Homo sapiens: one gene and its partner. The protein of the gene in region 2 interacts with the protein of the main gene of each other region in a pairwise test. Each region holds a gene or a part of one and is shown on either strand. Other genes may lie near its edges.

Evidence for each region.
Region 1: the proteins of CWF19L2 (region 2) and FXR2 interact in binary tests that used the Homo sapiens proteins (3 or more experiments, as listed by UniProt).

The regions. Positions count from the first base shown.
Region 1 is NC_000017.11:7,611,360-7,619,538, forward strand, and holds the start of FXR2 (RNA-binding protein FXR2), read right to left. Parts: upstream 3,539-8,179; 5' UTR 3,174-3,538; coding exon 3,093-3,173; intron 2,753-3,092; exon of another isoform or gene 2,705-2,752; intron 1-2,704. UniProt on the Homo sapiens protein: mRNA-binding protein that acts as a regulator of mRNAs translation and/or stability, and which is required for adult hippocampal neurogenesis. Specifically binds to AU-rich elements (AREs) in the 3'-UTR of target mRNAs.
Region 2 is NC_000011.10:107,325,421-107,329,215, reverse strand, and holds the end of CWF19L2 (CWF19-like protein 2), read left to right. Parts: intron 1-2,162; coding exon 2,163-2,306; 3' UTR 2,307-2,856; downstream 2,857-3,795.

The DNA.
Region 1 (8,179 bases), on a different chromosome or scaffold from region 2:
ATATTTTATCCTTTAAGAAAACTGACGGGAGGGCGTGGTGGCTCACGCCTGTAATCCCAGCACCTTGGGAGGCCAAGGCGGGCGAATCTCTTGAAGTCAGGAGTCAGAAACCAGCCTGGCCAACATAGCGAAACCCCGTCTCTACTGAAAATACAAAAATTAGCCAGGCATGGTGTTGCACACCTGTAATCCCAGCTACTCGGGAGGCTGAGGCACAAGAATCACTTGAACCTGGGAGGCGGAGGCTGCAGTGAGACGACATCACGCCACTGTACTCCAGCCTGGATGACAGAGGGAGACCCTGTCTCAAATAAAAAAAAAAGGAAAAGAAAGAAAAGAAAACTGACAACAGGGCCCAATTCTGAGAGAGGAGAAAGGGACCTTCCCAAATGTACAATTCCAGAAGCAGTGTAAATACTCCCTGACCCATCCCAAGTTTGCTGAGTCATGAATATTAAATCAGCAGCAAGGTCAAAACGGATAAGTATCTGTAGGGTACTGAGAGTGGAAGATTAGCCTGAATTTAGGGATTTGTGGTTTTTAACTCAGGAACAGGGCAGAAAATGCTAACCTGCCCAGATCCACATTACCACATTACCTGGCTTTCAGCTCAACCCCAAACTCTACTCTCTGAATCACAGTATCCTGGTCCCCATCTATTCAAGTCTATCACTGCCACAGCACACAGGAGAAAGGGAAAAGATTCAGAGAGACTTTCTGCTGGACACTTATATGTGGGACAGAAAACGTGTCCCTTCCCAGCCATCTCATACAGTTCATTTGAACTGGATACCAATCTTTCTCAGCTGTGCAGGGCTCCTACGCTTCCTAGAACAAAGCAAACATCATATCTTGATCTTGGACTCAACTTAAGAATCACTTTTCTTGGAACTCAGAATTTGGGGGTGGTAAGGACCCAGATGAAGGAAAAGATACCAAGGTAAACAGGGAGGGCCACTTTAGGAAGCTATTTCAACAAAGGTAATGCAAGTTTGGGGAAAAGGATATGAGAGACAAATGTGCTCTATCAAAAGCAGAAAGGAATTAGAGACTTTTGCCAAAGAAAACAGAAATGCTATGGAGGCAGGCTAGAAGAAAAAGTCCCAAGAGTTAGGCAAGTATGCACAAAATGACAAAAAGAGATCAGCAGGGAGCTTCCTTCAGCTAGACAGGGAATAAGGTGATTCCTGGGGATTACACAGGAATACAGAAATATTAGGAGAAAAAGCTAAAAACTTGAATTGAGAAGGTAAGTTAGACATGGGTACCCACAGTCACCGCAGAGAAATAAATCTGATGAGGGAAGTAAGGCAAAAATGGGTAAGTATGAAGAGTGAGTAAAAAATGACTACAATGGCCGGGCGCGGTGGCTCACGCCTGTAATCCCAGCACTTTGGGAGGCCGAAGCAGGTGGATCACTAGGTCAGGAGATCGAGACCATCCTGGCTAACACAGTGAAACCCCGTCTCTACTAAAAATACAAAAAAATAGCCGGGCATGGTGGTGGGCACCTGTAGTCCCAGCTACTCGGGAGGCTGAGGCAGGAGAATGGCGCGAACCAGGGAGGCGGAGCTTGCAGTGAGCCAAGATCGCACCACTGCACTCCAAGCCTGGGCAACAGGGCGAGACTCCATCTCAAAAAAAAAAAAAAAAAAAAAAAAAATGACTACAATGCACTTAGCAACTGAAGTACAGGCAGAAACCACCCAAGAGAAATTACAAGACCCTCTGCAGTTATAGAAAAATATGACTTAGAGAAGGAGTCAAAGAAAGACATTTCCAAGGGCATGAGAAACTAGAGAGGACTACAGTGGGGGAAAAAGGCCTGAGGGGAACTGAAGGAAAGGGGGAAGGGGGATCCACTCTTAACAAGTGATGCCATGGGAAGGTATCTCTTCCCCAGCTCCCCAGGGTGAAATCAAAGAATGAGACAGAAATCAGGAGAGTCTCTAGGACAATTCCAGGCATCAAATCCAAGAGGTTCAGAATACCAACAGTCACACAAAGAAAAACTCTTGGGAGGCAAGAAAGGGCTCTCTCTGGCTTAATCTAAATGGGAAAAAAATGTCCTAGAAAATAGATTCAGAGCAGATAAGGAAGGTGGTATTATAAGGAGTTCTAAGGAACCAAATCCTGGGCAAAGGGGGAGGTGAAATAAGGAAGGGTCTTTGAAAGATGATCCCGTCTTCCAAAAAAGGTTGTCAGATTCCCGAACTGGGATAGTTGGCCAAGAGTCTTCAAGAAGTGGAAATCTTAAGATAAACAGAAGGGAACCTCATAAGCTTCCTTTCAGAGATCCTTTTAGAGATTATGACTATGAAGCTTACATGCCTCAAGACGAAGAAACTATATGAATGACCTGAAGGTATCTGAGGTCTAAGTGAGACCTCAAATCCATTCCTGAGTAGAATGGTAGAGCAGTGGGTCTTGAGATCAAGGTGTGGTGGGGAGAGAGACTTGCGAAAGATGCCACCTTATGGCTGGCTGGGAAGCAACTTGACTGATCCAACCCAGGGTTCCTGAGGTCAAAGATGCCAAACGTCGTAAATGGATCTGACCATTTCTCCTTGGCTTGGGAACCGGAATATAAGATGAAAGTGGGGTGAGTGTTCCAGAGCCAGTAGGCAGAGGCCTCTCTGAGGAAGATGAAAGGATCTTTTACGGGACAGAGGGCCTTCCCAAAGGGACCGTGTGGAAGAAAGACAATTCTCCATGTGCTTGGATCGTGGGGAAGATGTGATTAAGGTCTAAGGTATGTCTTCCACCAGACAACGGACACAGTCAATTAGAAGCTGGGTAAAGGGGTCTCTCCTGCGGAGCGGGGAGCGCCAAGCCAGGGACAATAATGGCCTGAAGTTCATTCTCCCGGAGATGGGGGTAGAAGCAGGTGCAGGTGCCTTAGAGGGGTCAAAAATAAGAGGAACAGGGTTCACTCTAAGCGGTCTCCCAGGGAAGGCTGCGGGTTGGAGCAAGGGTCCAAGATTCTAAGGGCCAGGACTCAGCTCCAGAAGCTCGATCCCGCCCCACGCGTTCCTGCTCCGGCCAGGGGAGGGGGCTAAGGACCGGCGTCCCCAGTCGGCGCGCCGTCTCACCTTGTAGAAGGCCCCGTTGGAGCCGCGCACCTCGACGGGCAGTCCCGGCTCCACATCCCCCCCAGAGGCCAGGCCGCCCATGGCGCCGCCACCGCCTCCGACTCCCCCGGCGGCGGCTGCAGCAGCAGTCTGAGTGCGGGCCGGGCCAGGCCCCCGGCGTCTCCCCGGAGGAGGAGCCGGAGGGGGAGCCGCGGGGGGCGGGAGCCGGGCCGGCCCCACGGCGGCCCTGCCACAGCCAACGAGCAGGGGGCCGGGGCCGGGCCGCTCCCCGTCCGCCGCCGCCGCCTTGGTCTCCGCCACCGTGAGGGAAACGGCCGCCGCCGCCGCTGCCTTCGTCACCTCAGCTTCCGCCCGCCGCCGCCCCCGCTGCTGCCTCAGTCCCGGGACCCGCTGCTGCCGCTGCCGCTCCACAGCCTCCACCTCCCCCTGCCACCGCCGCCTACTGCGCAGGCGCACCGGGCACCCGCCCGCTGCGCGCGGGGCCCCGAGGGCCACCGCGCAGGCGTCAAGGTTAGAGCCCCAGCTAGCGCCAGCTAGCGCATCGGGGCTTCCACATTCCCTTTCACTCTCTCACTCCCCCTCCTGGTCGCTTGCTAGCGCTTGCGCAGAACAAGATTAGCCTTCTTTCTTCACCGCTCCACCGCCCAGCCACCCCGTCTCTTCCTTTCCCCGCCCCACAACACTGAGAACCAACCAATCAGGGGGAGGGAGGGGCCGGGCTCGCTCAGTCCGATTGGGCGGCGTCCGCACAGTCACACAGCGCTCAGGCCACACCCACTCCGCCGCCGCTGGCCCCACCGGGCTTGGACAAGTTAGGGATGGGCATGCGCCTGAACGACTGCTTGGTCACTTTCCCCACCTTTGTCTTTCTTGGTGCGCACGCTCCAAAAAGAAAAAAAAAAGAAGAGGAGTCGCCGCAAGGAAAAAGGTGCTTGGTGCGCACGCGCTGAGCTTTACCCTCTTCGCGTATGCATCGCCGATATTTTAAGAATCTGTAACTCTCTACTGTAGTAGATTTAACAGTCATGGCTCTTACCTTGAAGAGATTGTGATACAATGAAAGTTTTGGCCGGGCGCGGTGGCTCACGCCTGTAATCCCAGCGCTCTGGGAGGCCGAGGCAGGTGGATCACCTGAGGTCCTCGGATCACCTGAGGTCAGGGGTTCGAGACCAGCGTGGCCAAAATGGTGAAACCCACCCCCCCCCCCACCCCGCATCTAATAAAATACAAAAATTAGCCGGGCGTGGTGACACGCGCCTGTAATCCCAGATACTCGGGAGGCTGAGGCAGGAGACTACCTTGAACCTGGGAGGCAGAAGTTGCAGTGAGCCAAGATCGCACCATTGCACTCCAGCCTGGGCGACAGAGCAAGACTCAGTCTCAAAAAAAAAAAAAAAAGAAAGAAAGAATAGAAAGAAAGCTTTAAGAATAGTTTCAGACGGGCGCTGTGGCTCACTCCTGTAATCCCAGCACTTTAGGAGGCTCAGGCGGTGGATCACTTGAGCCCAAAAGTTTGACACCAGCCTCAACAGGGCGAAACCCTGTTTCTACTAAAAATACAAAAATTAGGACGGGCGCGGTGGCTCAGGCCTGTAATCCCAGCACTTTGGGAGGCCGAGATCACGGGCGGGCGGATCACGAGGTCAGGAGATGGAGACCATTCTGGCCAACATGGTGAAACCTCGTCTCTACTAAAATACAAAAAATTAGCCGTGGTAGTTCCAGCTACTCGGAAGGAGTCCCAGCTACTCAGGAGGCTGAGGCAGGAGAATCGCTTGAACCTAGGAAGGTGGAGGTTGCAGTGAGTGGATATCATGCCACCACACTCCAGCCTGGGCAATGAGTGAAATTTCTTCTTTAAAAATAATAATAATGGCAGGGCGCGGTGGCTCATGCCTATAATCCCAACACTTTGGGAGGCCGAGACGGGCGGATCACGAGGTCAGGAGATCGAGACCATCCTGGCTAACACGGTGAAACCCCATCTCAACTAAAAATACAAAAAAAAAAAAAAAAAAAAAAAATTAGCTGGGCGTGGTGGCGGGCGCCTGTAGTCCCAGCTACTCGGGAGGCTGAGGCAGGAGAATGGCGTGAACCCAGGAGGCGGAGGTTGCAGTGAGCGGAGATCGTGCCACTGCACTCCAGCTGGGGCGACAGAGCGAGACTCCATCTCAACAACAACAACAACAAATAATAATAATAGTGGCCCGGCGCGGTGGCTCACGCCTGTAATCCCAGCACTTTGGGAGGCCAAGATGGGTGGATCACAAGGTCAGGAGTTCAAGACCAGCCTGGCCAACATGGTGAAACCCCATCTCTACTAAAAATACAAAAATTAGCTGGGCATGGTGGTGCATGCCTGTAAACCCAGCTACTTGGGAGGCTGAGGCAAGAGAATTGCTTGAACCTGGGAGGCAGAGGTTGCAGTGAGCCCAGATTGTGCCATTGCACTCCAGCCTGGGCAAAAAGAGCGACACTCTGTCTCAAAAAATAGTAATAATAATAATAAATAATGCTGGGGAAATTCAAAATAGGAAAAACTGTCATGAAATAAGGGTAGTAGCAGGAAAACTTCACATTCTGGGAGTTGTCCTATGTTCCATCCACTTCTTGGATTAGAGTAAATGGTAATGCCAATCATGGAAGAGATAACATAGGAGATAAAGGTTTAGAAAATAAGGTGATGAATTTACTTTTATTTTTTTTTTGCCCTTTGAGCTTAGCCACCACATCTGGCTAATTTTTAAATTTTTGTATTTAATGGTGGAGACAAACAGACTTGGAAGTCTCTGACTTCATAGTGTGATGGCAGAAGAAAGACACTGGAAAAATTATTAATATTTATAATAATTATTAATATTGCAACCATGGCCAGGCACAGGGCTCATGCCTGTAATCCCAGCACTTTGGGAGGCTGAGGCGGGTGGATCACCTGAGGTCACCTGAGGTCAGGAGTTCAAGACCAGTCTGGTGAAATTCCATCTCTACTAAAAATACAAAAATTAGCTGGGCATGGTGGCACGCGCTTGTAGTCCCAGCTACTCGGGAGACTGAGGCAGGAGAATCGCTTGCACCCAGGAGGCAGAGGTTGCAGTGAGCCAAGATTGTGCCACTGCACTCCAGCCTGGGTGACAGAGCGAGACTCCATCTCAAAAAATTAAAATAAAAAACAAAAATAAATAAAGGCGATAGAAGAAAGGAAAATAAAGTATAAGAAAATTAAAGGATTAGTCCATGGGATACAACATCTGAATAACCAGAATTCCAGAAAGTGATAACAGAAATAATTATCTGGAAAGGATAAAATCATCTAAAATCAATAGTAATAATTATTCAACAAAATTTTCCAAGGCCAGGTGTGGTGGCTCATGCCTGTAATCCTGGCACTTTGCGAGGCTGAAGCAGGCAGATCACTTGAGCTCGGGCGTTCAGGAGCAGCCTGGGCAACATGGCGAAACCCTTTCTCTACCAAAACTACAAAAATTAGCTGGGTGCGGCGGCTCACGCCTGTAATCCCAGCACTTTGGGATGCCGAGGTGGGTGGATCATCTGAGGTCAGGAGTTTGAGACCAGCCTGGCCAACATGGTGAAACCCCATCTCTACTAAAAATATAAAAATTAGCCACACGTGGTAGCGTGTGCCTGTAATCCCAACTACTCAGGAAGCTGAGGGAGGAGAATCTCTTGAACTTGGGAGGCTGAAGTTGCAGTGAGCCGAGATCACACCACTGCACTACATACAGCCTGGGTGACAGAGAAAGATTCTGTCTCAAAAAAAAAAATTATTTCCAACCTCGTTTCCTATACCTAGCCACACTCTCAATATTTTTTTGTTGTTGAGATAGAGTCTTACTCTGCCACTCAGACTGGAGTGCAGTGGTATGATCTCGGCTCACTGCAACCTCTGCCTCCCAGGTTCCAGTGATTCTCTTGCCTCAGCCTCCTGAGTAGCTGTGATTATAGGTGCCCACTGCCACAGCTGGCTAGGTTTGTTTTTTTTGTTTTTGTTTTTGTTTTTGTTTTTTTTGTATTTTTAGTAAAGACGGGGTTTCACCACGTTGGCCAGGCTGGTCTCAAACTCCTCACCTCAGGTGGGTCACCCACCTCGGCTGCCCAAAGTGTTGGGATTATAGGCATGAGCCACTGCGCCCGGCCCACACTCTCAATTAAGTGCAGTAATAGAACAGACATTTTCAGGCTTTTAAGTTCCCAACAAATTTACCTCCCGGTACTCTTTCTCAAAAAGCTCCATCAAAATAAGAAGAGTAAACATAGAAAGAGGAAACACAGGTTCCAGGAAACAGGACGTCAACACAAGAGAGAGGCAAAGGGGATCCCCAGGATAAAGGTGAAGGGAGATCCCAATTGCGCAGCCTCAAGATCGCCTCTCTGGACTGGAGCAGGTCTAAGAGCTTTTTGAGAAAGTTCTTCAAAATGACGTAGATTGAAATCCCTAAGTGTTTGTATATCCTTATAAGAGATTAATTAAGGGAGAATTTGGGGATAAATTAGAGTACACAGGAAACTAAGCAAACAGAGAGGACAAGGCAGTTATTAATTCCAGGGAAAACAAAAATGGTACAGGAAAGAAAAAGAATTGTAACTATCCACATGGATCATACGTGTATTCGTATAATCATAATAATCATAATAATGAGGCCAGGCATGGTGGCTCACACCTGTAATCCCAGCATTTTGGGAGGCCGAGGTGGGCAGATCACCTGAGGTCAGGAGTTCAAGACCAGCCTGACCAACATGGAGAAACTCCATCTCTACTAAAAATACAAAATTAGCCAGGTGTGGTGGCACATGCCTGTAATCCCAGCTACTCGGGAGGCTGAAGCAGGAGAATTGCTTGAACCTAGCAGGCAGAGGTTGCAGTGAGCCAAGATCGCGCCATTGCACTCCAGCCTGGGCATTAAGGGTGAAACTCCATCTCAAAAAAAAAAAAAAATCATAATAATGTAAATGCTAAGGCTGGTGCGGTGGCTCATGCCTGTAATCCCAGCACTTTGGGAGGTCAAGATAGGCGGATCATGAGGTCAGGAGTTCGAGACCAGCCTGACCAACATGGTGAAACCCCATCT
Region 2 (3,795 bases):
GCAACTGAAACAGTCAAAAGTAGTCTGGGCAATGATTGCTCTAGAAGTGAGCCTTTAATCTAGTATAGATCAGGCCTTTCCATTCATATTTATCCCTATGTAGCCAGGCCCTCTGAAAAAGAGGGGCCTTGGTGAACTCTGCTTGGGATTCCCTGTTCTCCACCCTGCTCCCCACTTTCATCTCCTGCAGAGGAACATCTTCTGCAATGAGTAGAAATATCTGAAGAGGAATCTCAACTCCAGAGGTTTGATTCAAAACTTTTTAATGCTCTTGTCCTTAGTGGGTTAACCAGCATAACAAAGTAACATGCATCTTTGAACTGTTATAACATATTACAGAAACAAGTTTGAGAAGTGTTCAGAATTTTTTTTAACTAGAAAGAAATGTGTTTTCACTGTTCTGAAAAATCCTGTTGTTATACAGTAGAGCTTTATAACCAAAAGCTCTATGGCTGGATTTATTAAAAACAAAAACAGAAAAACAAAACAAAACAAAAATTTGGTCCTAGAAAAAAGGAAGTAAAATATCCATTTTTAAAAAGTTGTATATATTAAACTGGGAGATTGCCCTTTCTTCACATATTATTCATGCATTCTGGTTTATATGATTCAGTTTTGGAGTTAAAAGTAAATTTTCTCTGTCAGCATTGCGTCACTGAGCCATTTTCCTCAAAATTTGCTTTTTAAGAAATAGCCTGTGGGCTCAAGACCTCCCTGCAGTCTGCTGCTGAAGCAGTTGTTCAGAGAGCAAGAAGAGATTATGGGGATAGTCTTTCCATTAACAGCTGCTTTGATAACAGAACAAGAGTCAAGCTTATATGGTAGATGTAAGACAAAACTTGGTATTTTATAGACAATTTTAGGTAAACTTTTATAAGCTAGGCTTTCTTAAACTACATTGCTTATTTGGACCGATGCTGAGAAACTCTTGAACTAAATCTCAATTTGCCCTATTTCTCTTTTCTACTATCTCTGTTGACCCCTTTATTTCCCTTCCCTGATGACAGGAGATTCCCTTTTCCATGAAGCATCTCCTGGTCTGGCCAACAAATAGATTGTTTTTTTTTTTTTTTTTTTGAGTCTCCACAAATGGTCTGCTTTGACACTTACCTTCTACTTTATGAGACAGTCTGCTGCATAGCTGGATTATTATTCCTCCCACCACAGCTCCAGATTCTATTCTGTCTGAAGACAACTGTGTGTCTTCACCCCACAATCTCTGTATCCCCTACAACATACGGCATTTGCTTCTGCATAGTAGGTCCCTAAGTAAGATGAAGAACCTGCATCTGAAAGATTATGTGGTTTGTGCAGGATCTCACCACACAGTCTGGTGGAGCTAGACCGACTATGCAGAATTTGATCCTTAGTCTGTTTTTTGTTGTTGTTGTTTTGTTTTTTGTTTTTTGCTTTGTTACCATACTGCCCTCCCTCTAAGCATTTAAGCATTAGGAGGCTCCCCCATGTCTTTCTGTTCATGGATACTCACATGCCTAAATTTGATTTATTTCTATAGCTAACAGCACAGGAAGAGGATCATGAAGGAAATCAAGAATAATAATCAGATAACCAAAAAGCCATTTATTATGGGACTTGAGAATGTGATTTTTTAAATGAAAGTGATATATAATTTTTAATTCTATCAATAGGTTTACTTAAACTAGTATTACAATAGGATTTTGTTTCATGAAAAAAGATTTCTGCTAATAGTGGAAGAAACTAATTTATAAATATACTTGGTAGCAGAGAGAGAACATTAGCTTGGGATTCAACTGCAGTTGAGCAGTAAAGTTAATAATTGCTAGAAGTTGATTAACATTTTTGCAAAATTGTTTACGGGAGCCTCTAATAGAGATCATATTAATTAAATTTCACTTGTTTTCCCTCCCCTTTGTTACCATCTAGTAGATGTGCTAATAAGCAACAAAATGGACAAATTGCTTGATAGGAGATGCAGCTAACTTGGACTCTTAGAATCACACGGTTTGCCTAGTTAGAATTAACTGAAAACATATTTTTTTAACTTCAACTAGTATTTATGCTTGAACATTGTCATGGAGAAGAACTTGTTATATTTTATAGCAGAATAAACAGAAATAGTTTCATTTCTGTTTTCATTATTTATACATGCTTGTGTTTGTGCTTTTCTCTTTCTTTAAAAGGAAATCATAGGTGGGATGCTGGATATAGAACCAAGACTTTGGAGGAAAGGCATCCGAGAAAGCTTTGAGGATCAGAGGAAAAAAGCACTGCAGTTTGCTCAGTGGTGGAAACCATATGACTTCACCAAAAGTAAAAACTATTGAGGTGTACCTTCCATTTTAAAATTTTTCTTCAGATCCCGTTCAGTTTTATTTCCATTGCATCTAATGAAGCAACTGACCCTCAGGTCACAGGCAGAGAGAGTCACAGCAGCAGACTGCTCTGGGTCAGTGACAACTGTACATCAGGAGATTGTGTTGTTTTCTTCTTCACCTGCTCCTATCTATGGACTTCATTTTAGTCACCATGGAGTAAAAACATATATTCGATGATCTGCTCACATTCCTGCTCTCTACCTACTTCTTGGTATTCCGAATTGTTCAGTTAATTTAGAGAAGGCCTTTTCTGAAGGGATATCTAAAAAGCATAGGAAATCCTTGGTTCAGAGGGAAGTGGGTCTGCTTCATGGTTGTTAAGTCTACTGTCTGGCTTCTTTTGCATTTTTAAAAATAAGACGATTTAATTTTAATTTCATAGGATTTTATAGAAAAGCTCTTAATTTTCTACTAGCAGTATATAGTATCACTTCTATTCTTTTTGTTAAAGGAAAAGGAAATGTCCCCAAAGTATTAAAGAATTAAATGATACTGAAAATTTGTATGATTCAAATTTGTTTTTATTTCTGGATTTTTAAATAGTATCTTTGAATTTTGGTGGTTCTAAAAGTAATTCTTCCAAATAACATATTTTAGGGTTGTTTGGGGTTTGCATGAAAGTTAAAATTTATAGCCAAATCATTGGTTTTGAGTTGTACTGATTGTCGTAAAATCTTAAGTAATGAGAGTTTTTATTTATTTATCTTTTTGTTTTGTTTTTATTTATTAAGACAGAGTCTGGCTTTGTCACCCAGGCTGGAGTGCAGTGGCCCAATCATAGTTCACTGTAGCCTTGAACTCCTAGTCTCAAGCTATCCTCCTGTTTCAGCTTCCCAAAGTGCTGGGATTGCAGGTATGAGCCACCATGCCTGGATGAGAGTATGGGACATTCTGTTGTCCCTTACTTGATCCAAGGAACGTAATTTTTATTTGTTCTCAACTCACACCATAGTCATATTTTGTAAGTATAGGGTTTTTATGTTTTGAGTGCTCCTACTTTTCTTTTTCTTAATGGAAATTATTGTTGTAGTAACTTTTTTTTCAGCTATTGGCTTTTTGGAAGCTGAACCTTTTTGTATGAAATGTTGGATACCTAGATTCAGTGTGAGGTGTGCTCCACTGTAACTTATAACTCTACACATTGTTTCTTCTCTTTTTTAAATTATATTTTAAGTTCTGGGGTACATGTGCAGAACGTGCAGTTTTGTTATATAGGTATGCATGTGACATGGTGGTTTGCTGCACCCATCAACCCATCATCCACATTAGGTATTTCTCCTAATGCTATCCCTCCCTAGCCCCCCGACCCCCTGACAGGCCCCGGTGTGTGATGTTCCCCTCCCTGTGTCCATGTGTTTTCATTGTTCAACTCCCACTTATGAGTGAGAACATGCGGTGTTTGGCTTTCTATTCTTGTGATAGTTTGCTGGATTATTCT